7 linked regions of the Homo sapiens genome follow. The protein of the gene in region 6 purifies or fractionates together with the protein of the main gene of each other region. This does not show direct contact. Each region holds a gene or a part of one and is shown on either strand. Other genes may lie near its edges.

What was found.
Region 1: the proteins of KDM6B (region 6) and GMPS purify together in Homo sapiens (affinity purification with mass spectrometry, with the first as the bait; one large-scale study listed by BioGRID). This does not show direct contact.
Region 2: the proteins of KDM6B (region 6) and NIPBL purify together in Homo sapiens (affinity purification with mass spectrometry, with the first as the bait; one large-scale study listed by BioGRID). This does not show direct contact.
Region 3: the proteins of KDM6B (region 6) and USP9X purify together in Homo sapiens (affinity purification with mass spectrometry, with the first as the bait; one large-scale study listed by BioGRID). This does not show direct contact.
Region 4: the proteins of KDM6B (region 6) and SLFN13 purify together in Homo sapiens (affinity purification with mass spectrometry, with the first as the bait; one large-scale study listed by BioGRID). This does not show direct contact.
Region 5: the proteins of KDM6B (region 6) and REPS1 purify together in Homo sapiens (affinity purification with mass spectrometry, with the first as the bait; one large-scale study listed by BioGRID). This does not show direct contact.
Region 7: the proteins of KDM6B (region 6) and RPIA purify together in Homo sapiens (affinity purification with mass spectrometry, with the first as the bait; one large-scale study listed by BioGRID). This does not show direct contact.

What each region holds. Positions count from the first base shown.
Region 1 is NC_000003.12:155,908,650-155,912,149, reverse strand, and holds part of GMPS (GMP synthase [glutamine-hydrolyzing]), read right to left. Parts: intron 1,459-3,500; coding exon 1,265-1,458; intron 1,037-1,264; coding exon 871-1,036; intron 1-870. UniProt on the Homo sapiens protein: Catalyzes the conversion of xanthine monophosphate (XMP) to GMP in the presence of glutamine and ATP through an adenyl-XMP intermediate.
Region 2 is NC_000005.10:36,984,769-36,988,268, forward strand, and holds part of NIPBL (nipped-B-like protein), read left to right. Parts: coding exon 1-1,533; intron 1,534-3,500. UniProt on the Homo sapiens protein: Plays an important role in the loading of the cohesin complex on to DNA. Forms a heterodimeric complex (also known as cohesin loading complex) with MAU2/SCC4 which mediates the loading of the cohesin complex onto chromatin.
Region 3 is NC_000023.11:41,214,445-41,217,944, reverse strand, and holds part of USP9X (ubiquitin carboxyl-terminal hydrolase 9X), read right to left. Parts: intron 3,378-3,500; coding exon 3,236-3,377; intron 2,047-3,235; coding exon 1,293-2,046; intron 726-1,292; coding exon 602-725; intron 1-601.
Region 4 is NC_000017.11:35,434,596-35,438,766, reverse strand, and holds the end of SLFN13 (schlafen family member 13), read left to right. Parts: 3' UTR 1-3,671; downstream 3,672-4,171. UniProt on the Homo sapiens protein: Endoribonuclease that cleaves tRNAs and rRNAs. Cleaves tRNAs 11 nucleotides from the 3'-terminus at the acceptor stem. Does not act on tRNA(Sec).
Region 5 is NC_000006.12:138,978,254-138,981,753, forward strand, and holds part of REPS1 (ralBP1-associated Eps domain-containing protein 1), read right to left. Parts: intron 1-3,500. UniProt on the Homo sapiens protein: May coordinate the cellular actions of activated EGF receptors and Ral-GTPases.
Region 6 is NC_000017.11:7,837,217-7,840,716, reverse strand, and holds part of KDM6B (lysine-specific demethylase 6B), read right to left. Parts: intron 812-3,500; 5' UTR 693-811; intron 1-692. UniProt on the Homo sapiens protein: Histone demethylase that specifically demethylates 'Lys-27' of histone H3, thereby playing a central role in histone code. Demethylates trimethylated and dimethylated H3 'Lys-27'.
Region 7 is NC_000002.12:88,747,173-88,750,672, reverse strand, and holds part of RPIA (ribose-5-phosphate isomerase), read right to left. Parts: intron 693-3,500; coding exon 595-692; 3' UTR 1-594. UniProt on the Homo sapiens protein: Catalyzes the reversible conversion of ribose-5-phosphate to ribulose 5-phosphate and participates in the first step of the non-oxidative branch of the pentose phosphate pathway.

The sequences.
Region 1 (3,500 bases), on a different chromosome or scaffold from region 6:
TCCAATTAATTCCATAATATGTACAATAACTTTTATCATTAAACTACTGACCTCATTTCATTATAACTATCAATTGCACCTTGTTTTTAAAAAGTATAAAAGGTATCTACAAAAGTAAATGTTATTAAGGACTAAGAAGTTTACTAGTGGCCCTTTAAAAAAAAAGTATAGAATCTTTACCTCTCCCACAATAAGCTTTTCTGTTTGCAAAATAATCTGTATACCCATACCTGAGGAGGGCTTGGGTAGCCTCGTACATAAATATCATTAAATAGAGTGGGAAAAGATAATTTCTTTTTTTTTTTTTTTTGAGATGGAGTTTCGCTCTTGTTGCCCAGGCTGGAGTGCAGTGGCATGATCTCTGCTTACTGCAGCCTCCACCTCCCAGGTTCAAGTGATTCTCCTGCCTCAGCCTCTCGAGTAGCTGGGATCACAGGCGCCCACCACCAAGACTGGCTAATTTTTTGTATTTTTAGTAGAGATGGGGTTTCATCATGTTGGCCAGGCTGATCTCAAAACTCCTGACCTCAGGTGATCCACCCACCTTGATCTCCCTAAGTGCTGGGATTATAGGCGTGAGCCACCGCGCCTGGCCAGGAAAAGATAATTTTAAAAGTGAATGACTAGAAGAGAACTGAACAGTAGCTAGAAAATGTTAATTTATCAATCTATGTATTAAATTAGCAGAATCAATAGTTTAAAAATTTATACTGAGACCTCTCTTACACCAGAGGTAATTGTAAAAATAAAAAACATTTTCAACCTTGAGCATACTGAGAAAACTGTAATTGTGCTCATTTAAACCATAAGACTAGATTTGATTAAACAAGTCCTAACATGTAAGTTAACTTTTCTGAGGTTCTTCAATACCTTTGACCTGAATTCCAAGCTTTTTGAGGGCCTCTTCAACAGACTGGCTTTCTCGTTTTCTCATAAAGCCATTATCAATGTGCACAGCAATGACTTGTTCTTGGTTCAAAGCACGATTTAGCAAAGCTGTACAAACTGTTGAGTCTACTCCACCACTGAGTAAAACCTACGGGGTAAAATGAAAAATCAAAATGAGCAAAACAAGCAAAAAGAAAATAAACACTATTGGCTTAAATCTTTATCTAAAAGTGCTATTTATACCAAAGATATGTATGGTAACTGGAAAAGCACTCTAAAACTGTAGAACATTTAAGGGCTGTGTTGAGGACTCTAACTCCTGGATTCCAATATTATTGATATAAATTTGTAGACTTCCAGATAATAATTTGCTTACCAAAACTTTTGACGTGCCTACTCTCTCTTTGATCTCTCGAATACACTCAAGTTCTCTGTTCTGCACGGTGAAGGTTCCACTGCATCCAGCTATATCATAAAGGAAATTCTTCAGTATTACTTTTCCATTTTCTGTAAGGCCAACTTCAGGGTGGAACTGTGCTCCATATAACTTTTTAGATTCATTTGCTATGCCTTTATAGAGAAAATAGTCACAAATTAAAATTTTTTCATGCTGAAAAGACTCAAGCAATAACCACAATTAATTTCTCACAATCTCTGCCTCTATGGTTTCATTTTTTTTTTTTTTTTTTTTTTGAGACAGAGTCTTGCTCTGTCGCTCAGGCTGGAGTGCAGTGGCATGATCTCGGCTCACTGCAACCTCTGCCTCCTGGGTTCAAGCAATTCTCATGCCTCAGGCTCCCAAGTAGCTGGCATTACAGGCGTGTGCCACCACGCCCAGCTGATTTTTTGTATTTCTAGTAGAGATAGGGTTTCACTATGTTGGCCTGGTGGCCTCAAACTCCTGGCCTCAAGTGATCCACCTGCCTCAGCCTCCCAAAGTGCTAGGATTACAGGCATGAGCCACTGCTCCCAGCCAATTTTATTTGTTTGTTTGTTTTTTGTTTTGTTTTGTTTTGAGACGGAGTCTCGCTCTGTTGCCCAGGCTGGAGTGCAGCGGTGCGATCTTGGCTCACTTGTCACCTCTGCCTTCCATGTCCAAACTATTCTTCTGCCTCAGCCTCCCGAGTAGCTGGAACAACAGGTGTGTGCCACCACGCTCGGCTTATTTCTTTTATATTTTTAGTAGAGACAGGGTTTCACCATATTGGCCAGGCTGGTCTTGATCTCCTGACCTTGTAATCCGCCCATCTCAGCCTCCCAAAGTGCTGGGATTACAGGCGTGAGCCACTGCGCCCGGCCTATTTTATTTTATTTTTTAGACAGGGTATTTACTGCTCTGTCACCCAGGCTGGAGTGCAGAGGTGTAATCATAGCTCACTATAGTCTCGATCTCCTGGGCTCAAGTGATCCTTCCACCTCAGCCTCCTGAGTAGCTGGAACAACAGGTGCATGCCACCACACTCAGCTAATTTTTAAATATTTTGAAGAGATGGGGTTTTATCTTGTTGCCTGTTGAACTCCTGGGCTCAAGTAATCCTCCTGCCTCGGCCTCCCAAAGTGCTGGGATTACAGGTGTGCGCCACTGCACCCAGCCTTCTTCCTCTATAAATGTTAAAACTGGTATGTCTCAGTAGATTTTTAGCTATAGGAATAGGAAATACATAACAAAGACAAAAACTACATTGCTATAACCTTTCTTTATAAAGGTCTTTCTTGACACAGCAATTAATGAGGTATAGGACGTACATTAAGTCCCACATAGAGATTGTTTCACAGTATTCTCACCTCTCCACCCAAGTTACTTCAGTTGCCTTGTCTATCTAGTGCATTGATAATTCAATTTTGGTTCTCAGTTGCACATGGCTTTCAAATGCATTGTACAGCTACCAAGTTCTTATATTAAAAGAATCTCATATATTAGACTTGTCAGAATATACTGTTTCTTTCTTGACTACTATTAACCACAAAAATATATTCAACTACTTGACAAATGTGTTTCTGGCAAATATTACCTATGGGGCAATAGATGTTAGGCTAGGTATTTTACATGTGCATGTGTTACTCCTATTTTATGGCTCTGAGATATCAAGAAACTTGTATGAACTCTCAGGTAATTAAGTAACTAAATCAGGCCTGACAGGCTCCCAAACTCATACTCATTCTACTATACCACAGTACTTCACACTTTATTTGGCTCTCAGCATACCACTCTCTTGGTTCACTTATTTTACTGTCTATTCCTTCTGAATCTCTTTGCTGGTTCCTCTTCATCTTGCCCACCTCTACACATGGAAGTTACTCAGTCCTCAGCCCTTAAATCTCTTTTCTAAATATTCTAAGAGATCTCATACTCTCATCACCTTAAAATTCTGTCTGTATGCTGGTAAACCCCCAAATTTATACCTCCAGCCCAGTTTTCTCCTCTAAAGTCCAGGCTCATATATACAACTGCCTACTCAGCACCTTTGTTTTGATGTTTAATAAACCATCTTGAATTTAATATGCAAACTCAAACTCCTGAGGTCTTTCCAATCAGGTAAATAGAAACATCTTCCTTTTGGTTCCTCAGGCAAAAAAACTTGGGAGCTAAAACTTGATTCTACTTTTTCTTC
Region 2 (3,500 bases), on a different chromosome or scaffold from region 6:
CTACGGGAAATGGGTCAAGGCCAGCATTAATGGTTAGCATTGATCTTCATCAGGCAGGAAGAGTGGACTCTCAGGCTTCTATAACTCAGGATTCAGACTCCATAAAAAAGCCTGAAGAAATCAAACAATGTAATGATGCACCTGTTTCTGTTCTTCAGGAAGATATTGTTGGAAGTCTTAAATCTACACCAGAAAACCATCCTGAGACACCTAAAAAAAAGTCTGATCCTGAGCTTTCAAAGAGTGAAATGAAACAAAGTGAAAGTAGATTAGCAGAATCTAAACCAAATGAAAACCGATTGGTGGAGACAAAATCAAGTGAAAATAAGTTAGAAACTAAAGTTGAGACCCAAACAGAAGAACTTAAACAGAATGAGAGCAGAACAACTGAATGCAAACAAAACGAGAGCACCATAGTTGAGCCTAAACAAAATGAAAATAGACTGTCTGACACAAAACCAAATGACAACAAACAAAATAATGGCAGATCAGAAACAACAAAATCAAGGCCTGAAACCCCAAAGCAAAAGGGTGAAAGCCGGCCTGAGACTCCAAAACAAAAGAGTGATGGGCATCCTGAAACCCCAAAACAGAAGGGTGATGGAAGGCCTGAAACTCCAAAGCAAAAAGGTGAGAGCCGCCCTGAAACTCCAAAGCAAAAAAATGAAGGGCGACCTGAAACACCAAAACACAGGCATGACAATAGGAGGGATTCTGGAAAGCCATCTACAGAGAAAAAACCTGAAGTGTCTAAACATAAACAAGATACTAAATCTGACTCACCTCGGTTAAAATCAGAACGAGCTGAAGCCTTAAAGCAGAGACCTGATGGGCGATCTGTTTCTGAGTCACTAAGACGTGACCATGATAATAAACAAAAATCAGATGACAGGGGTGAATCAGAGCGACATCGAGGGGATCAGTCTAGGGTTCGAAGACCAGAAACATTGAGATCCTCTAGTAGAAATGAACATGGCATTAAATCTGATAGTTCAAAAACTGATAAACTAGAACGAAAACACAGGCATGAATCAGGGGACTCAAGGGAAAGACCATCTTCTGGGGAACAAAAATCAAGACCTGACAGTCCTCGTGTTAAACAAGGAGATTCTAATAAATCAAGATCTGATAAACTTGGTTTTAAATCACCAACTAGTAAAGATGACAAAAGGACAGAGGGTAACAAGAGTAAAGTAGACACTAATAAAGCACACCCTGACAATAAGGCAGAATTTCCAAGTTATTTGTTGGGGGGCAGGTCTGGTGCGTTGAAAAATTTTGTCATTCCGAAAATCAAGAGGGATAAAGATGGCAATGTTACTCAGGAGACAAAGAAAATGGAAATGAAAGGAGAGCCGAAAGACAAAGTAGAAAAAATAGGATTAGTTGAAGATCTAAATAAAGGAGCTAAGCCTGTAGTTGTGCTACAAAAACTGTCTTTGGATGATGTTCAGAAACTTATTAAAGATAGAGAGGACAAATCAAGAAGTTCCCTTAAACCTATCAAGAATAAACCATCAAAGTCAAATAAAGGTAAGAATACTTCTACTGATGTCATTTATAATATAATCGATTTTAAGTGTTAAGATTACTAAGTTTTAAAAAGGAAATTTACAAAAATTAGAAAGCTACTACATGAAAATATAACATTTATGTCAAACAACAGGAAATTTTTTTCAGGAGTATAGATAAAAAGTTTCCAGTGAATTTTTTTTTCCCCACAGTTTTTTTCTTCCCACCCACTACTCAAGGTAGTTATGAATGTTACTGCTATTTGGTTACACAGAGATAAGTTATTTTGCTGTTTAGTTATTTCTTATATTTCTGAAATATGCTTAAGTGAATGTTGTATTAAAATAGCTGTCTTTAAAAACTCTCTATTTAAAAATGTCTTACAATACTACATTCTTACAGACCTGTGTCTGAGCCAATTATTGATGAATAATTTGTATAGTTTAGAAAGTTATATAAAAGGTTATTTTTCATTTTGTTGGGGAGATGGTTAGTTAAATATGTTTTATATTTTTAAAACATATCTTTTTGTCCTTGTTTATGCAAAGGTAATAGGGAATGGTACTTACTTTTTAAATTTGGTTAAATTGTAAGTTTGTGGGAGGCGGGGGACTGGTGTTATTTTTGCATGGTTTCTGAATTCTCTGGTTACTTGAGTAAAATTATTTCCAAAGGGAGAAGAATGTCTTAAGTGCCAAAAGATAATGGCCATTTGTGCAGAAGATATACTTCTGTATCCCTTTGTACACAAGTATTTAAAATAACTTTTTTTATTTTTAAATAGAGATGGGGTCTTGCTTTGTTGACCAGGCTGGTTTCGAACTCCTGGCCTCAAGTGATCCTCTCCTCTCAGCCTCCCAAAGTGCTGGGATTACAGGCGTGAGCCACCGTGTCCATACAGTCTAAATATACTGAGGTGTAGTGAAGGCAATAGAACTGAGAGTTTATTTAAGTTTTCCTTCTGTGAAAGAGAATTATTAAGAATTTAGATTTATACTTATATATAACCAAGTATATGAAATCTGGAATTGCATTGGCCAAGAGGGTAACCATTGCCTTTTTTGGCTATTTAAATTTAAGTTAACTAAAATTGGAAGTTCATTTCATTAGTAGTCACATGTGGCTGTTGGCTACCATATTGGACAAAACAGAACATTTGCATCATCACAAAGTTGTATAGCACTGCAGTGTATTAGGAGATACAAAAAGTGTGTGGTTATTGTTTTTCATAACATGCTGTTGTAGCTTGTCTACCAAGAAAGCTCTTTGAAAACATATTATAAAGAACTCTTTATTCAAAGAATGACTTGTGGCTAATCTGTTGTTATTCTTGCTTGGTCTTCGTCAACATTCATTTTTTCACTGTTAATTTATTTCCTTTTGTCTTACAATAATGAAAAAAGATTGCCTTCTGAGTCGCTAATATTTGTGTTCTTTGAGTGAAGCTTTTAAATTTTAAATTATGGCAATTAGACTTACCAAAAGTCAGTTAAGACATCAGCCTTAATTAATAAGTAGGCTTTTTTATTTAACTTGAATGCATCTTTTCAGAGTTACTTGTTAATATAAAAGAGGTTGTAGAATGTGGGGGTTAACACCACAATTGTTTTCTTTTAGGTAAAAATTTTCTTTAAAATTTTTTAGTGAAAGTTTGGGAGTAGCTTATATTTATAAACTAAAGAGTATGGCTATACAATTTTAGAAGAGTCAGGTGAAAGATGGAAAGTGGTACCCTCTTGTTCCTTTGATCTGGACCATCTTTCTCTCCCTCCCCTCTCAGCTTACCCTAGCCTTGCTTTCTAAACTCTGTTCTAACAAAGAGTCTTTTAAAACTCCTTAAAGAACATCCAGAAGTGAATATAGCTTTTAGTTAGTAATTGGTATATTATTTCACCTGGGTTTTTCACATGCAATAATATTGCCTATGAATATGTTTTTAGCACCAAAATGCGTTTCTGATAGTATACTTTTAATGCAGATGTATATAC
Region 3 (3,500 bases), on a different chromosome or scaffold from region 6:
ATTTCATAAGTAGCTTACACTTTTCAGTCTCATCTTGTAATCTTTGGTTTTGTTTGAGACAGGGTCTTGCTCTGCTGCCCAGGCTGGAGTGCAGTGGCACAGTCATGGCTCACTGCAGCTTCAACCTCCCAGGCTCCAGCGATCCTCCCACCTCAGCCTTCCGAGTAGCTGGGATTACAGGTGTGCGCCACCATACTTGGGTAATTTTTAAAATCTTCTTTGAAGAGATGGGGGTCTCACTATGTTGCCTAGGCTGGTCCTGAACTCCCGAGCTCAAGCAATCCTCCCACCCTGGCTTCCCAAAGTGCTGGCATTACAGGTGTGAGTCACTGTCCCCCAGTCTCAGCTTGTAGTCTTTGGTGCAGGGATGTCAAAGATATGATACAAGGTAATAGAAGCAGAAGTCAGCTTCTGAATAACAAAAGGCCATGTTTAGACTAAGTAACTATTTTAATATGATTTCTCTATTGTGACCCAGAGTTTTTATTCTATATTCCAAACTTCAAACAAAATTCTCTTGGTTTAGAAAAACATAAAGCAATCTATTAAAGAAGCAAACCAAACATTAGTATAATAGGAATGAAAATCCAAAGCAATGTACCAATCACTGGCAGAGCCACGGACTACTTTCTTTGTGTGAAATCCTGTAGTAAAGAGGAACCTAGCAGCAAGTTGAATACTGATCATAGTGATTTCTTCTGCTTCAGGCAACAGGTGATCTTGCCCTATAAATAAAATGCAGATATAAAAACACATTTTTATTTTCCAACCCCATTTTCAAACAAGTCTGTGTTTCCATTAATTTTGAGAAGTCCTAAATTTGTTAAGAACCCTTCTCAGGCTACTTTAATTTAGACCCATTTATTTTTTTATTTTATTTTTTTGAGATGGAGACTCACTGTCACCCAGGCTGGAGTGCAGTGGCCATCAATTTGGGTCACTGCAACCTCCACCTCCCAGGTTCAAGCGATTCTCCTGCCTCAGCCTCCGGAGTAGCTGGGACTACAGGGAGTAGCTGGGACTACAGGTGCATGCCACCATGCCTGGCTAATTTTTATATTTTTAGTAGAGATGGGGTTTCACCATGTTGGTCAGGCTGGTATTGAACTCTTGACCTCAGGTGATCCACCTACCTCGGCCTCCCAAAGTGCTGGGATTACAGGCGTGAACCACCACACCCAGCAAATTAGACTCATTTAAAGTGAAAACATTAATTTTATGAACTTAAACATGTTGACGCCTACTATAAATTATTCTTTATTACTAAGAAGCTAAACTCTCTTGATACTCACCGGGAGGAGGGTTTAAGTAAACGCCATTACATGTAAGCAGTTTTTTCATAAACTGAAAATACTCCATACTGTACTGCATTCGGTTATGCATGAATTGTACGTTCTGTTTCCGTACACTTCTCTCAATGGCTGATGGCATAATAATCTGATGAGGTCTGGTGGTGATAGCAAGCTCTGATATATATCTTATCAACTCATCATCTTGGTCTATTGTGTCCATTCGTTCATAAAAAAGTATATAAGCATTCCACCACCTTTTCTGGCGCCTGTATGACATACGCTTCATCATGTGATCAAACACTTCTCCCATGTACTCTCCACCAAAACACTGGTTTTTCATTTCTTCGTCATCATCCATTTTACATTCTGTTACATCACCATCATCAAATTTATACCAGCGATTTCTCTCACCATCTCCACCATTCCTTTGGATGATGTAAGAATAATAATGCCCCCCACTCGCTTGACCACTGTGTACGAGCACACCCACAAGTCTGTATTTTGTGCTTCCTGCTGTCTCACTTTCAGACTGCTCACTCTGTTGTATCAACTGACTCTCTGGGTTTACATTATCCCCTTCCAGCTTTGCGACACCTGCAACTGTGTAAGGTTCCATGTCCAGCTCTCGAGGAAATTCAAAATAATCATTGAACTTGATTGCACATTCTCTTTCCCAGTCATAGTCAAATCGCTTTAGTTGTATAGCAAGAACAGGAGGTAATTTTTTAATCAGCAAGCGCTTTACGGTATCAACCTAAAATAAACAAGACAAAGTTACCAGATGTTCTATTAAAATCCACAGGAAAAAAAAAAAAACCCCAAGCAAACTTTTAAATGATATTAAGACTTATCTGAATTTTTAAGTATAAACAAATACATGACAATGAGCATAATCAAGATAATCCTATCAGCTGATTTAAATGCTGAAATTAATAATATGCAAATGGTAAATTGTTGACTGGTTTCTGTCATTGTTATCTAGCCATTATTACCTGTTTGATGTTTACTGTTGTTCCCACGAAGGTGGTTTCCTATGCACAAACCAAAGAACTACAATAACAATAAGAGTAGCTAATATTTGTTGGGTAATTCAGATGCCAGGTAATATATACTAAGTGCCGCACAAGTAAAAACATACCGAATCCTTACAACCTTCTCAAGTGTGTACTACTGAACCTTAAAAGATGAAAACTAGTAATCACAGAGAGGTCAAGTAACTTGCCTCAGGTCTCAGGAGCTGCAGGTGGCAGGCAGTATGGCTTTACAGCCCACAATCTCAATCTTTAAACTTCAGGACTTCTCTAAGTGGTGCATAAGGCCAAAACAACACAAGTGACTTGAGGGTGAAAGGGTTTGGGAGCTCCCAAAGATACACCTTATTCATTACTATAATGCGTGTGAATCATCTCTCTCAAAGAACTGCTAATAAGTTTCCAAAATAAATGGTTTTATAACATAGGTGATAAAAGAAATCTTATGGGCCACTTGACTAGTCTAAAAGAAATCTTATGTGGTTCAATAAAGTAATTAATGGTTTCAGCAAATGTTTTGGTCTTGACAAGTAATCCTGGACATGACAGGAGAAATGTTTTCCTCTATCAGCTCTGTATCTTTGAGGGGTTCAATGGCAATTTGTTTCTCGGTAGAGATGGAAAGTGTCTGTGTAACTTATATAAGAGAATGTGCTATCACGTTATGACTTTTAAAATTATTCACTCTTATTTACCTATTTTTATCTTATTTACCTAGCCCCTTTGGCACTACTTTTTTTCCTTCCTTGCCAAACCTTCTATTAGTTATCATATTGACTACTTCTCTGCTACCACTATACCAAAGTAGGAGAAAATAAAAATAGGGTGACTTGTGAGGATGAACCAAAAAAACCAATTTCTTCTAAATCCATTAAATGTAATCAAAATTAAACAAAACTGGACAGCCCGTACCTTTTTATTGCATTTTTCACAATGATATGCATTTGCACCTTCTAGTAAATCTCCTTTGACATACTGTTCCAAAGAATCAAGAAGATTTTGGTGATTTCTAATGTCTACGTTTAGGGTCGTAAAAGATTCTTCACATTCGTACCTAAAAACGATTTAAAAAAAGGATTTATCCCTTAGTTTTGTAAACATTTTAGTTATGGACTTAATGTAAACTACATTTGCCTTTTTTTTTTAAATTATACTTTAAGTTCTAGGGTACATGTCC
Region 4 (4,171 bases), about 28 Mb from region 6:
GTAATCCTATTTGGCTGATTTCCCTCCATATTGTAAGTTTTGAACTTTTCTGCCAGTCTTTCTCCTATTTGTGTTAACTCATGGAATTCCAGTTGTCTAGCCTTGAAATTGTAGGCTCTTCTAACTTGAGCAAAATCTGACAGATCAGCAAAATAAGGAGAAAAATATTTCTTCTTTCTTTCTGGCTGCATTAAATGAGATACAGCTCAGCACCAAAAAGCTATCTTTGTAAATGTTCTTAGTAAACTCCCTGGTCTTTGGAGTTATTTCAGCCTTTGAGAGTAATTCTTTAAAAGTCTAATTCTGACTGGTTGAATCTCTCTATATGATTTATTGCCCTAGTAATATTTGAAACAGTATCATATTTTAAAATATATAAATATTTATGAATTTTTGTTCAGCCCAAAGAGGATTACTGATGCTTTCTTCTTTTTCCATATGATGAGGAAATGTTTAGCTTATATATTTATTGCATTTCTGTTTTAAATAAAAAATTGAGAGTTTGTGTTTCATTAAACTGAAAAAAAAGGTTCTGTAAAATAAATGATTAAATGGAGGAAAAGGAGAAGACTGAGGCCAGCAACTCCATGATACAGCCAAAAATGAGCCAGTAAAAGATTAAGCAAGATTAACTGTAAATTTTTTTTTTTTTTTTTTTTAAAGAGAAAAGGTCTCACTGTGTTTCCCAGGCTGGAGGGTAGTGGTGTGATCATAGTTCACTAGAGCCCTGAACTCCTGGGCTCAAGTGATCCTCTTGCCTTAGCCTCCCATTGCTGGGATTATAGGCATGAGCCACTGTGTCAGGCTTAATTGGGTTTTGATGGGTACCTGCCTATCTCTGTAATTTGGCTCTAGTCATATAGGACCTGCTTCATTAAAGATCTGAAAATCTATCCAGCCATTGTAAAATGAAACAAAATGTTTTGAAAATTTAAATTAGCCTTTTATTTTAGTTCAGACATATAGAAAAGTTGCAAGCATAGTACAGAAAGTTCCTATATACCCCACTTAGTGCCCTCCTTTTTAAAATTTTTTTAAACCTAGCTTATTTCCTTTAAGATTTCTGAGAATTCCAGGAATGCTCACAGATCTGTCCTTGTAGTCTCCTGCCACTTCTTGCTATGGAGTGCTGTACCAAGGTCTCTGCTAGTTTCTAGTTGGCTTGACATAATGACTTTCCTAAACTTCTTCTGCTCTGAATCTCAAGCATGGAAAGCGGTCACATCTTTTGTTTCACGAATTAACAGTCAACACCTGGCCCTACTTTTAACAAAACTTAGTAAAGCCTTGAGCATAGTGAAAGACAAATATTTAAATTATATATTAGCAGGAGGCTGAGGTGGGAGGATCATATGAGGCCAGCCTGGGCAGCATAGCATGACCCCCCCCTCGAGAAGACAACAAAAAATTATCTGGGTGTGGTGGTGTGCTCCTGCAGTCCTAGCTATTCCAGAGGCCGAGGCGAGAGGATCGCTTGATTCCAGGAGTTCAAGGCTGTAGTTAGCGATAATCGTGTCACTGAATCCTAGCCTGGGCAACAGAATAAGACCCCATGTCTAACAAAATAATAATAAAACAATCAAAAGTTTAAAATTAGTTATTAAATGTCAGTGTGCCCAGAGTCCTTTGACCACAGATGATCCTGATGGCCTTCTCTCGCCTTGTCCCTGTGCCTCCTTCTACCATTTTTCTTCCTGAGATTCAAAAGTAAGTAGCGGACAGGGTTCCCATTTACCACTAAATACTTCAGTGGGTGTTTCCTAAAAGGACATTTATAGTACCATCATCAAAATCAGTAAATTAACCCTGATACTATTATCTAATCTGTAGACTTTATTGAATTATATCAGTTGTGCCTCAAGTGTCTTTATGTTTTTTTCTCAAAAGAGAAAAAGTTCTGGTCCAGGATTTGATCTAAGATCATGCATTGTATTGAGCTTTCCTTTCTTTTAAGTCTCATTTAATCTGGAGATGTTAATCTGTCTTTGTCATATCTTTGACACTATTGAAGAGGACTGGCCTATTATTTTGCAGAGTATCTGATTTTGGGTCATTTCATGTGTTCTCATGATTAGATTCAGGTTATGCATTTTTGGCATGAATTCCATAGAAGGGCTGTTACGGTTCTCAGTTCACGGTATTAGAAGGCACTTGATAGTGATTAGTTCCATTCCTGATGATGTTAACTCTGATCATTTGGATAAAGTGGCGTCTGCCAGGTTTCCCTACTGTGCAGTTACAATTTGCTTTTTGTAATTAATAAAGTGTGTGTGTGTGTGTGTGTGGAGGGGGGGTGTTTTTGCTTCTGAACGCATAATATTTGAGATTTTTTTCTAATTAAAAAGTAATTATTCAAAGAGTTCAGAGAACTGATACTGATCACATTCTTTGACCCCACATGCAAATACATTATAAACTAGTAATAAAACGGTAACTAGAAAAATGTTCATATCTTTTGGAATTAAAAAAGTGTTTAACTCGTGGATCAAAGCAGAAATTCTGTAACCATTGTCACAGCAGGTTCTAACAAGCAAGTTTAAGGAGGAGAGAATTTCAGTCCTAGAGAATTTCAGTCTTATTCAAATGCTTTCCTAGAAAGAGGAAACAGTTCCTAACTAATTTCATGAGGCTGGCATAATCTTGATAACAAGTCTGATAGGTAAAGTATGAAAGGAAAATTGCAGGTCACTCAATTATCACTCAAATATCTACATGAAAAATTCTAAACAAAATTTTAGCAAACAAAATCCAACAATTTGTAAAAGTGATAATACACCACGACCAAGGTGGTTCAAGTCAGGAATTCAACGTTGATTTTGGCGTTAAAAAATCAATCATCAGGCCCAGTGAGGTGGCTCACTCCTGTAATCCCAGACTTTCTGGAGGCTGAAGGAGGAAAGATCCTTCAGGCCAGAAGTTTGAGTCTGCACTGAGCTGTGACTGCATCACCGCACTCTAGCCTGGGTGCCAGTTTGAGACCCTGTCTCCAAGAAAAAAAAATTAATCAGTGTAATTCACCACAGATTAAGAGTTCAAAAGAGAAAAATCACATGATCATCTGAATAGAGGAAAAAGCTTTTGATAAAGTTCAACATCCATTCATAATAAGGACTCTCAGCAACTTAGAAGTATAAAAACACTTTTGGAAATCAACAAAGGGAATTTACAGCATGAACAAACAGCAAGCCAGCATGGTGGCTCACACCTGTAATCTCAGCACTTCCAGAGGCCAAGGCAGGAGAATCACTTGAGCCCAGGGGTTAGAGACAAGCCTTGGCAACATAGCAAGATCCTGGCTCTACAAAAAATAAAATAAAATGAAATAAAATTTAAAAATTAGCTGGGTTTGGTGGTGTGTGCCTGTAGTCCCAGCTACTGGGAGGCTGAGGTGAGAGGATCACTGGAGCCCAGGAGGTGAAGGCTGCAGTGGGCTAAAAACAACCAGAACAACCCCCCAACCCCCTCCCCGCAAAACACTATAAAGAATAGCAACACAAGGTTCAATGTAAACTTTGATATGGTGTTTTACCTCTGAGGAGAGGCTTATTGTTAATATTCTTTAGCCGTGTAAGGGGTTCACAGATGTTCATACTTTTGTTCTTTATACCTTATATGTATTCTATAAATATTGTTTCTACTCAATAGTTAATAAAAACATAATTTAAAAGTTCTGTGAATGTTTTTACTCTGCTCACTTTTGAGGGGCCTTTTGGGATATGCATTTTCTATTCCAAGTTGATCTGATATGTCATGCCTGCCACACACATTCCCATGGGAACAACTTCTTAATGTCTTTTGTTTCTGCCTTGGAAGCCATCCTGGTGCTCTGGGAAAATCCCTGCACTAGCATTTTCTTTTTCTTTTCTTTTCTTTTTTTTCTTTTTCTTTTTTTGAGATAGAATCCCTTGCTCTGTCTTTCAGGATGGAGTGCAGCCGTGTGATCTTGGCTCACTGCAACCTCTGCCTCCATCCAAGCGATTCTCATGCCTCAGCGCCCCCACACCCTCCCCAGTCCACCACAGTAGTTGGGACTACCAAGGCGCGCACGACTATGCCCTCTCACCATATTGCCCTGGCTGGTCTCCAACTCCTGAGCTCAGGCAATCCACCCACTTCGGCCTCCCAAAGTGCTGGGATTATAGACGTGAGCCACCGCACCCGGCCTGCGCTA
Region 5 (3,500 bases), on a different chromosome or scaffold from region 6:
ATATTTAATAAAGCCCAATTATTTGTTTCTTTTCCTTTTCTTTTTTTTTTTTTGAGACAGGGTCTGGCTCTGTTGCCCAGGCTGGAGTCCATTGGCGCAATCTCGGGTCTCTCTGACCTCTGCCTCCCTGACCTCTGCCTCCCAGGCTTAAACCATCCTCCTGCCTCAGCCTCCCAAGTAGCTGGGACCACAGGTGCACACCACTATACCCAGCTAATTTATTTTATCTTTTTTTTTTACAGGCAGGGGTCTCCCTATGTTGCCCAGACTGGTCTCAAACTCCCGGGCTCAAGTGATCTGCCCGCCTCAACCTCACAAAGTGCTAGGATTACAGGCATAAGTCACTGTGCCCAGCCCTGTTTTGTAGTTTTAAATACAAAAATCTTGGTGACTCTTTTCTTAAGTTTATTCCCAAGTATGTTAGGCCTCTTTGAAGCTAATGTGAATGTATTTTTTTCTTACTTTCATATTAAGATTTTATGTTACTACTACACTGTTAATCCTGCCTCAGTTTGTAGAAAACAAATAAAAGCCATTAGGCCAGAACATCCTCCCACTAAATCTATATTCCACCCACTAAATCTATATTCCTACTTGCGTCTGTAACCATGTTGTTCTTTCTTCCCCACTGTTAAAACTGAGGAAGTGGCCGGGCACGGTGGCTCATGCCTGTAATCCCAGCACTTTGGGAGGCCAAGGCAGGCAGATCACGAGATCAGCAGTTCGAGACCAGCCTGGCCAACATGGTGAAACCCTGTCTCTACTAAGAAGACAAAAATCAGCCAGGCGTGGTGGTAGGCACCTGTAATCCCAGCAACTCTGATGGCTGAGGCAGGAGAATCGCTTCAACCCGGGAGGCGGAGGTTGCAGTGAGCCAAGACCAGGCCATTGCACTCCAGCCTGGGCGACAGAGCGAGAATCCATCACAAAAAAAAAAAAAAAAACAAAAAAAAAAAACTGAAGAAGTATCCCCTTCCTATCAAAGGACTCTGTGCAGTCAGGATCCTGACCACTCCTGCTTTCTCAAGGACTTCTCATCTCCCTTATCTTAGCAATCCTAACAACTAAAATCATTCTGCAGAATTTCTCACACTCAAAAAGAAACAAACAAAAAGATTTCCTTTATATCCTCATACATCTCTAGCTTCTACCCTGTATCTATTCCCTTTCATAGGTAAACTTCTTTAAAAGCTATCTATACACCCTGTCTCTAGTTCCTCAGCCATCATTTATCCCTCAAATCACTCAAATCTGGCATCCATCTACACTAGTCCATGAAACTGGCTCACTGAAGTTACTAATAACTTCCAGGTTGCCAAATCCAATGGCCACATTCCTGCCCACATGTTCTCAGCCTCTCAGTGAAATTCAATACAGCTGACTACCCACCCCCTTGAAATACTTGCATTATTTGGCATCCACGACATGATAATACTATATATTACACATTCCCAATTTGTACCACTCTGATTGTGTGCTTCCTAGCGTCCTTCCAAGAAGCCTTCCAGTTTACCCAACTTAGAAATGTTCAGCATTCCTCAGGATTCCAGTTCTAGTCAATCTTTCTCTCTTCTTTATAATCTTTTCTTCAATTATTTCATTACCTTAAGTATCACTAACATAGTGACAATCTTCAAACTGACATCTCTAAGCCAAGTATCTCTGAATTCCTCAAGATGTATAGATCTCTCTAACAGGCCTACTTGACAATCTTACAGGCTTCTGAGAACTAAGATAGACAAAAGGGGAACTGCTGAATTCACCCTTACCTCTCCCACGAAACAATCCCCCCCAAAATCCACTCCTCTTCCAACCATCCAATAGTGGCAACTTCCAGCAACATCCTTGAGTTCTTTCCCCTCCCTTATGTTCCATATCCAACCCTATTTATGCCTTCGTATTTCTACCACCTAAAAAATTCTCACAGATGTCCACTGCTCTCTATCCTACTGCCACCTCGCTAATCTAAGCCATTGCTGTCTGCTGCCTGGACTGTTGCATATCCACTAGCGTATCTGCTTCCACTTGCCCCCAGTATTCTTTTTGCTCATACAGCAGTCAGCATGATCTTTTAAAATATAATTCAGATGATGCTACACCCCCGAATAAAAACTTTTAGTATATTTCCACTAAAATCCAAATTCCTTATCACTGAGTACAAGGGCCTGCCTTATGCAGTCCCTGCCATTCTCCCCTCTTGTCCACAGTTTCAGTTCCTTAAACACACTGTGCTCTTCACAGCCTCAGGCCCTTCCCAGTTCTCTCTATATGAAACACCTTATTCTCCCTCCCCTGACCCCCCATCCAGGCATCCTCTAAGGGGCCTTCCCTTACACCTAAGTAGGTCCCCACTACCTCCTCTGATTCTACCACCCAATGATTCTCTATTATTGTACACAGTTCTTTTTTCCTTTTTTTTTTGTGGGTGGGGCGGGGGGGGGGGGGAACGGAGACTTGCTCTGTCACCCAGGCTGGAGTGCAATGACACTACTATGTTTACTATGTCTCATTGCAGCCTCAACTTCCCAGGCTCAAGTGATCCTCCTGCCTCTGCCTCTCAAGTAGCTGGGACTACAGGTGCAGGCCACCACGCCTGGCCAGTTCTTTTTCTTTTCGACATTGGCACAAGTCAGAGAAGATGTCTTGATCCTTCACCACTGCATGTATACCCCCAATACAAAGAACAGCCACAAAGAAGTCTTTGTTGAAAGTATTTAAAACTGATTTAAGACAGAAGTGTTTAGCATTTCACAGGTCAGCCTGCTCTTCCTTAAAACTGAATTAATGTAGAAGTCCATAAGATGAGCTTGACTCAATTAGGGGAAGGCTGGAAATCACAAATTAAGTGCAAAATTCTGTGGAACTATGTTTTCTAAGCAGATGTCCAGTGCGTGCAGCAGAATCTCAACGGAATCAACAGCCCAAAAGAGACAGACTAATAAATTCTGTCTTCATTATTTAATGAGACAGACCCCAAATTCAACACCTGGCTAATTCTTGAAACAAAATGCAGAAGAGATGTAGTATTCTTAATTTTAAAAAGCCTAAGTCTTAGAATTTATCAAATCTCAATGAAATCTGGTATACAGTTTAACTTCCATTAGACAAATTTCTTACACAGAGGGAAAAGATGAGTGAAGATGCATCTATAATAGGAAAGGCTACAGAAAATAAAACCTATATAAGGGAAAACATCAGAAATGACAAGTCTTATCACCCATTTCAAATTCTCACGACCTTGAAGAACTAAGCACCCATGGATTTATGACCCTTTCATCAGTTTCCTCTTGTATATATCTCCTCTTTGTATTCCTCAAAGAATGTCAAATAATCCTGTTCCAGTGTCAAGATAGTGGAGCAACTAACCACAAGACTTTGTGCTACTTTTAAAGGGGTGTGGCTGGAATAGATTAGCCGCTCCTACACAAAGATACTCTCATTTGAGTCAGAAATCATGAAAACCCAATCCCATAGCTATATCAGACATTCTGTGATTTGTT
Region 6 (3,500 bases):
GAAACCCCATATGTAATGAGGAAGAACAACACAGAGAGAACTTAAGCCCCTGGCTTAGGGATTATCTTCCCTTTTCTCCTACAAAGGAATGGGAAATAAAGCAGGGCCTCAGGCAGAGAACTGACAGAAGGAGAGAGGGAAGCAGAAGAGTAAGACTTAGGTATGGGGGCAAATGCTATAGTGCAGTGGGGAGAGAATGGGACTGAAAGAGATCTGGAAGGAAAGGTGAAATGCCAAGACTGCTGTGGCTGGCAGTGATCTCCACTATCTCCCCAAATAAATTCTGAACACCCTCCAAAAGCCAGGGTGTTCAACAACTCCTATAGGGACAAAGCTGTTTCCCTACCAAGAAAAAATTCCTCCAGGGTAGCTCATATCCACTTTTCAGCTTGCAAACTCCCTCTTCATTTCAATAAGCAACTGAGTTGTAGCACTAGGGAGATAGTGGGGAAAAGATTTTTTGGTAGTAGTGGAGAGGCTGGTGAAGTACAGGGCTGAACCATTTATAGGAGATAGAAGGGAGGTCCATAAACCAGGAGGGCTGAACCACTCAAGCACCACATGGTGGGGTGCTTAGAATTGGACTGGACCATTCTGAAGAGTGGGCATGATCCAGATCATACCGAGCATCTCCAACCATGTGGTGCAGAGTTAGACTGCTGAGGAGAGAGGGTCACTCAGACAGGACTTACCAGATGGAGTTTGGTGTGCCCTGTCTCATTGGAACCACCACCCCAGCAGTGGGGTACAACAGACCACAGTGGGTGGGGTGGGCAGTGCTACGGGGCTGGCATGTTGCCCTGGGGGGAACCTAAAAGAAAAAAGTCAGTTAGAGGTGGGGGTCTTCCAGGATGGAGAATTTTCCTGGGCTCCCTGCCCCCCTCATTAAGGAGAAACCTGGCTCTGGTGGTCAGATATGATGGGAGAATCTTGTTTCCATGGCAACCAGAAAAAGCCATCCCCAAAGTGGTCATCCAACCTTCCCCTTTGGGAAGCAGGCTCGATCAGTTGGTAAGGGGCCATGATATGGCATCTGAGTAAGTCTACAGTAGACCCCAAACCCGTGATCCCTCTTCTGACAGGACGCTCCTGCTGAGACTCCCTGGCCTGAGTCGCCCCAGCTGCCCTGACATCTGTACACAAGCCAGCCTGAGTCCTAGCACCAGGGCATGCAGACCCTCTTCCTTCAGCTCTGTGTCCTCTCCAACCTTATCAAGACACCAGACAGTCAACCCCACCCTCTGGACTCTGCCCCCTCTTCTTCCCCCAGGCGGGTGCAGGCAGGTCTTGGCTAGCAGCACAGGTAGCCAGACTAGATGAACGGGCCCAACAGGGAGGGGCCATCCTCCCCTGCAAGAACTCTGACTCTGGGCCTAAGCCTGGAAGTAGCCTCCACTGCAAGCCTCCCCTCCCTGCCAACCCCAAGGCAATATCCTGTTTCCCCATCACCTCCTTCCTCTTATGTGGCCTAAGAAGGTGATACAGGCCCACTCCCTTCCCAACCCTCATAGACAAGAAGCTAGGTCTTTTAGCATAAGTCCAAGGCCAAGAATCAGGTGTCCATCAGGGGTCAGAGCTAAGTTGGCCCTCACCTCAGACTCGCTCCTCAGGGACCTATGTTTTCTGCTCCCTTAATCATAGTTCTCTGCCCTTATGGACCCAAACACTTGGGGTCCCAATCTAATCTCTATATTCCCTAGCCTTCCGGCCCCCATCCTTCCCCTTGCCTCAGAGACTCAGGCCTCTAGCCCCCAGTCTCCATGATGCAATGTTCCGCAAGCTTCTGTGGCTGCTGATGACACTGCCCCCAGGGAGGTGCTATTTGTGACCCACCAAGGCCTCCTTCCTAAGCCAGGGTAGTGGTCAGCTGTAGGTGGTAGAGGTCAGGCAGGCAAGGCCCTTCTGCTCGGGAAGGGAGCTTCAGGCTAGAACTCTCCAGGACAGGGAGGCTCATAACCTGGGAGCAGAGAGTGTGTATCTATAGTCTGTGGCATCTGTGTTCTGCGGTTGTGCTGGGGGGAGGGACTAGGAAAGGGCTAGTCGAGAGCAGAGTGGGCAGACTTTAGGACAGACCAAGAGGAGGAGTGAGGGGGAAGCCTAGGGGGTCAGAGGGTGTGTGAGGGGTGTCTGGACAACAGAGTGGGGGAGGGGCTAACAGCCATTTAAAGGGCCAGCCCCAGAGCTTTAATCCCTCACCAGCCCTGGCCCCAAGCCGGAGGCTGTAATTCATCTGTCCAACAGCTGGGGTGTGTGTGTTTGTGTGTGTGTGGGGGGGGGGGCTTCCTCCCCCTTCTATTCCCTCCCTCCTCCTCCCCGTCCCTGAGTCCCGGAGTCAAACAAAGAACTGTAGCAGGCTCTCCCCAACCCCCTCCCTCCTCCTCCTCCTCCTCCTCCACCTCCTCCTCCCCTCCCTCCCTCCCCACCAGCAGGCTCCCTCCTCCTCCCTTCCGGTCTCTTCCTTTAACTACCCGCCCCCCCAGCCCCCAGCACTAGTCTCTCTCCACCCACCCACCCCAACCTTTTACACACCCCTCAGCCTAGCCCTGTCCCCACTAGAGAAACTGTGGAGTCCCTCTGCAAAACGAAAGGCTCCAGAGATCAACACGGGAGGGGGCTGGGGTCTTGCTTCAAAATCAAGAACCATAATACAATTATTTTATTTTCAAGGCCCACGGAATAGTCTTAGCTATTTCTTGTCCAAGAGAAAAAAAAATAATCCTAAAGAAAGCAATACAAATCTGCCTAAAGCCTTCATCAAATAAAATGCACAAAGCAGTTGAAGCTAATCCCCAGCCCCCTAACCCCAATCTCCAAATTAACACAAACTATCCACTACCCCTTAACAAACTCCTACGGTTACCGCTGGTTTGGAGCAGACCCACAGCAATAATAATAAACTAGTAACTAACACCATTTAATAATAAAAGTATTTCATAACAACAAGCACTCATTCTGTGTTCATTCTGTGCCAGGCACTGTGCTAAGTGATTTGCATAAATTATCTCATTTTTTTCCTCCCAGCGGCCTTCAAGGTAGGTGTTGATATTTAAATGTTCAAGATTAACATACGAGGCTCAGAGAGGTTCTGACCTCTCCAAGTCCTAGTAGCCACTAAGTGACAGAGCTAGAATTAGAATCCAGGTCTGATCTGACAGCCCAAGCTCTAAGGTACATAAAAGCACAAACCGATTCATTCCAATACCATCACCAACCCTGGGACTTAATAGAGAAGAACAACCATAGCAATCAACTGAGTCCCCCTCCACCAAGTGAGAGGCTACAAACCGATTCACCCGCATACACACAATAAAGACCCTGACTTTTCAGCCTAATACTGTTTCTTGACCCTTTTCCTTTCATTGTTTGCAGATGGGGGTGTGCCATTATGGGGATTTCAGGGATAAGCTGGTGTGTAGTGAACCCCCCCCCATACTACACACAACTCTTCCGTCTTTCAACCACTCCCACTTCAAATCAATCTGGGGAAGGGGGCAATAGGA
Region 7 (3,500 bases), on a different chromosome or scaffold from region 6:
TCTCCCTGACAGCTTACATTCCAAGTCATTCCATACCATACCGCTCCACTCCACAGTTTTATAAACCTGATCTTAAGATGTAACTAGGTACTATGTGTGCTCACAATAAAAACTAACTAAAAACAAATCAGAGGGTAGCAGACAAGTAAACAAAGTTTCCAGTAAGGCATCAGGAGATCACTGCTGGTGGGCCCCTCACTTTACCAGCTTAAAGAAGTTTTGATTTTTATTTCTCAGCAAACTCAATATTCAGAAGCTTTACCAGCAGACTCAAGTCAAAGGTTTTAAATACAGTTTACCTCATTTTTTTTTTTTGGTAAATATTTCATATAAAACATGAACTCAAGTTCTACTTCATTTAAAAAACTGAATATTTTAATAGTAAAAATATATGTTTATATTTCTCTTTTTAAAAAGACATTTAATAACAATACTTCATAAGACTGGATTTAACTCCCCCTCCCACTCTTCCCCCCACCCCCCACCACAAGTTGTCCAGGCAGAGATACATTAAGGCAAAGGCTCCTGGAGAGGTACGTCCACCTTGGCTGTGGGCTGGAGACTCAAGGTGAACACACTCTGCTCCTTGCAGGGTCAACAGAAAGGCTTCTCCCTCATGTTCACTGAGCCATCCTGCATCCCAAAGTAGACTCTCTCAGCCATGTTGATGAATAGGCCTGTGTCCACCACACCTGCAGGACAAAGGACAGAAAGAAACATTGTTTCAGCCTCCCAAAGCAAAAAGAGACTCAAAGACTGCAGGGTCACTAGAAGCAACTGTCATACACAGCATTGGACGAATGACAAATCTAAAGCCTTTTTCTCCCACAGAGCAATGAAAAGAGATTCTGATTATCTTAATTTCTTCTTGCCACCTCTTTCTCCCCTCCCACTTTGGCCTTCTTTCTGTACCCAAACATGCTAAGCTTTGTCCTGCCCTGAGGCCTTTGTTCATGCTGTTCCCTCTGCCTGAGCCAGTCATTGTCAAGCACTTCAAGGGGCTGGCTCAGCTCTGTCCTTCAGACATATCAGATGGCAAGTCATCCTCTAGAGACCCTCCATGACTACTCCAGCCAAGGAGCCCCACTACCAGTTATTTTCAATCATACCACCAGCCTTGAAAGATTTCCTCGGAATGGGAGGAGATATTTGCAAAGCATATACCTGACAAAGGACTCATATCAAAAATATAAACAATTTATAAATCATCAAGAAAAAGACAGAATCCCCATAGAAAAATGGGCAAAAGACTTGAAGAAGTACCTCACAAAAGAAGCTACCCAAAATGGCCAATAAACATTTTAAAAGATGCTCAAAATCATTCACTGAAAGGAAATACAAATTAATATTACAAGATATCACTACACACACACTGAAGTCAGTGTAATGAAATTCTGCTGGGATGCAAAGACACTCATACGCATTGATGGTGAAAGCTGAGCTGGCAAAAGCACTTTGGAAATGTTCATCTTCCAAGCTGATGGATTCACACCTAACCACTCAGCAATTCTACTCCTAGATATACAACTGTTAGGCATACATTTGGTCATCAAAAGACATGTGTAAGATGTTGATAGTGGCACTTTTCCTATTAGCTAAAAACTGATAATACCCAAATGTCCATCAAGAGTAGAATAGAGGCTGGGTATGGTGGCTCATGCCTATAATCCCAGCACTTTGGGAATGAAGCCCAGGAGTTCAATGGAGCTCCAGATGGAGCTGATGGAGCCCAGGAGTTCGAGACCAGCCTGGGAAACATAACATAGAGATGGCAGCTCTACAAAAAATACAAAAATTAGCCAAGCATGCTGGCACATGCCTGCAGTCCCAGCTACTCAGGAGGCTGAGGTGGGAGAATCGCCTGAGCCCAGGAGCAGAGGTTGCAGTGAGCCATGATTATGCCACTGTACTACAGCCTGGGTGACAGAGCAAGATCCTGTCTCCAAAAAAAGAAAGAAAGAGAAAAAACTAAAAGAGTAGAATAGATATAAACTTTTTTTCACACACATACAGATGATGGAATATGATTCAGCAGTGAAAATTAACAACTACACACAACCTTTACCAAGAATATTTACATATACTCACACATACTTCAATGACATAACACTTTAACTGTAAGAGAAAAGGTATAATGGACCAGGTATGCAGGGAAACAGATACCTGCACACACTGTTGGTAGAAGGCTAAGTGAATACAAGCTACAGACGGCAATCTGAAACCATCTAACAAAAATCACAGACACATTAATCCTTTCATCCAGTGATTCCCTGCTAGCAAAAATCTGCAAACATAAATGACCACTAGTGGTGATCCAGTTAAGTCATAATGTTACATAGGTAAAGTGGAATACATGCAGGTATTCAGAAAAAAAAGGAACAAGGAAGCTCTTTTATAAGCCAATGTGTAATAATCTCCAAGACAGGCAAGGCAGGAAACAGAACATGTATAAAGCAGGCTACCGCTAGTGTAAAAAGGGGTGGGGCGGGAGGAGTTGCAATTTGTGTGTTTATGAAAGTCTATCTCAAAGGCCACACAATTTTGGTAACACTGGCTGCCTCCAGATAGGGTAACTAGTTGGTTGGAAAAGTGGCAAAGAGGACTTGCCACTGTTTAACTCATAATTTTAAACTACACAAATTCAAAAGGATAAATACAATGAAAACTTGCAGGAAAATGGCAATAGAAGACAGGATTAATGTGCAGCACCCACTTGGACAGACAGAACAGTGTGTGGAGACACACATTGTGAACTTTTGCTCCAAGAACCACCACAGGAACATACCAGGAAAACCAAAAGAATTCACAGACCCTTTGAAAGAAGTGGCTTGCTGCTGCAAACTCCATAAGACAGCCAAAAAACTGTGAGTTCCCAAAGTGTGAGAGGGGGAAAAGTCTGCCTCTGAACATACATCCCCACCGGGGAACCTGAAAAATCCAGATCACAGGAGACGGATTTAATCTTACCTAGAGCTGAAATGGATTTAGAGAGCTGAGCAAACTATAAAAGTAGAAGCAGCAGCAGGAAGAGCCCTGTAGACACTTCCAGTCCCCAGCTTGAGCCCAGGGAAGCCATCCCTGGCTTTATCTCACAGGGGTCCTTCGGGAAAAAAAGGCAGCCAGCAGAACTGGGGAGGGGCCACAGGATGAAGGAAGCTTCTAGCTGAACTTCGTAATAATTTCAACTGAGCACAAATTTTCCTGAGCAGAATCCGGTGGGGGACAAATGGGAAGTGCAGATACAAATGAAGAACCCACAGCCGAAGGTGCAGGCAGGCAGGGAGGGGCGAGGCCTGAGAGGCCTGCTTGCTTTCTCAGTAGGGAGGCCTGTAGTCTGGGGCAAGATCTCAGCCCTGCTCACCATGGTGGGGCATGGCGGGAGTGAAACTGGCCTTGCTGGCTGTGTGGCAGCTGGGTGGGGGTCTGTCACTGCCGGCTTTCTCCTACTTCCCTGGCAGCCTGTATGACGCAGAAGAGGCAGCCATAATCCCCCTGGGAAC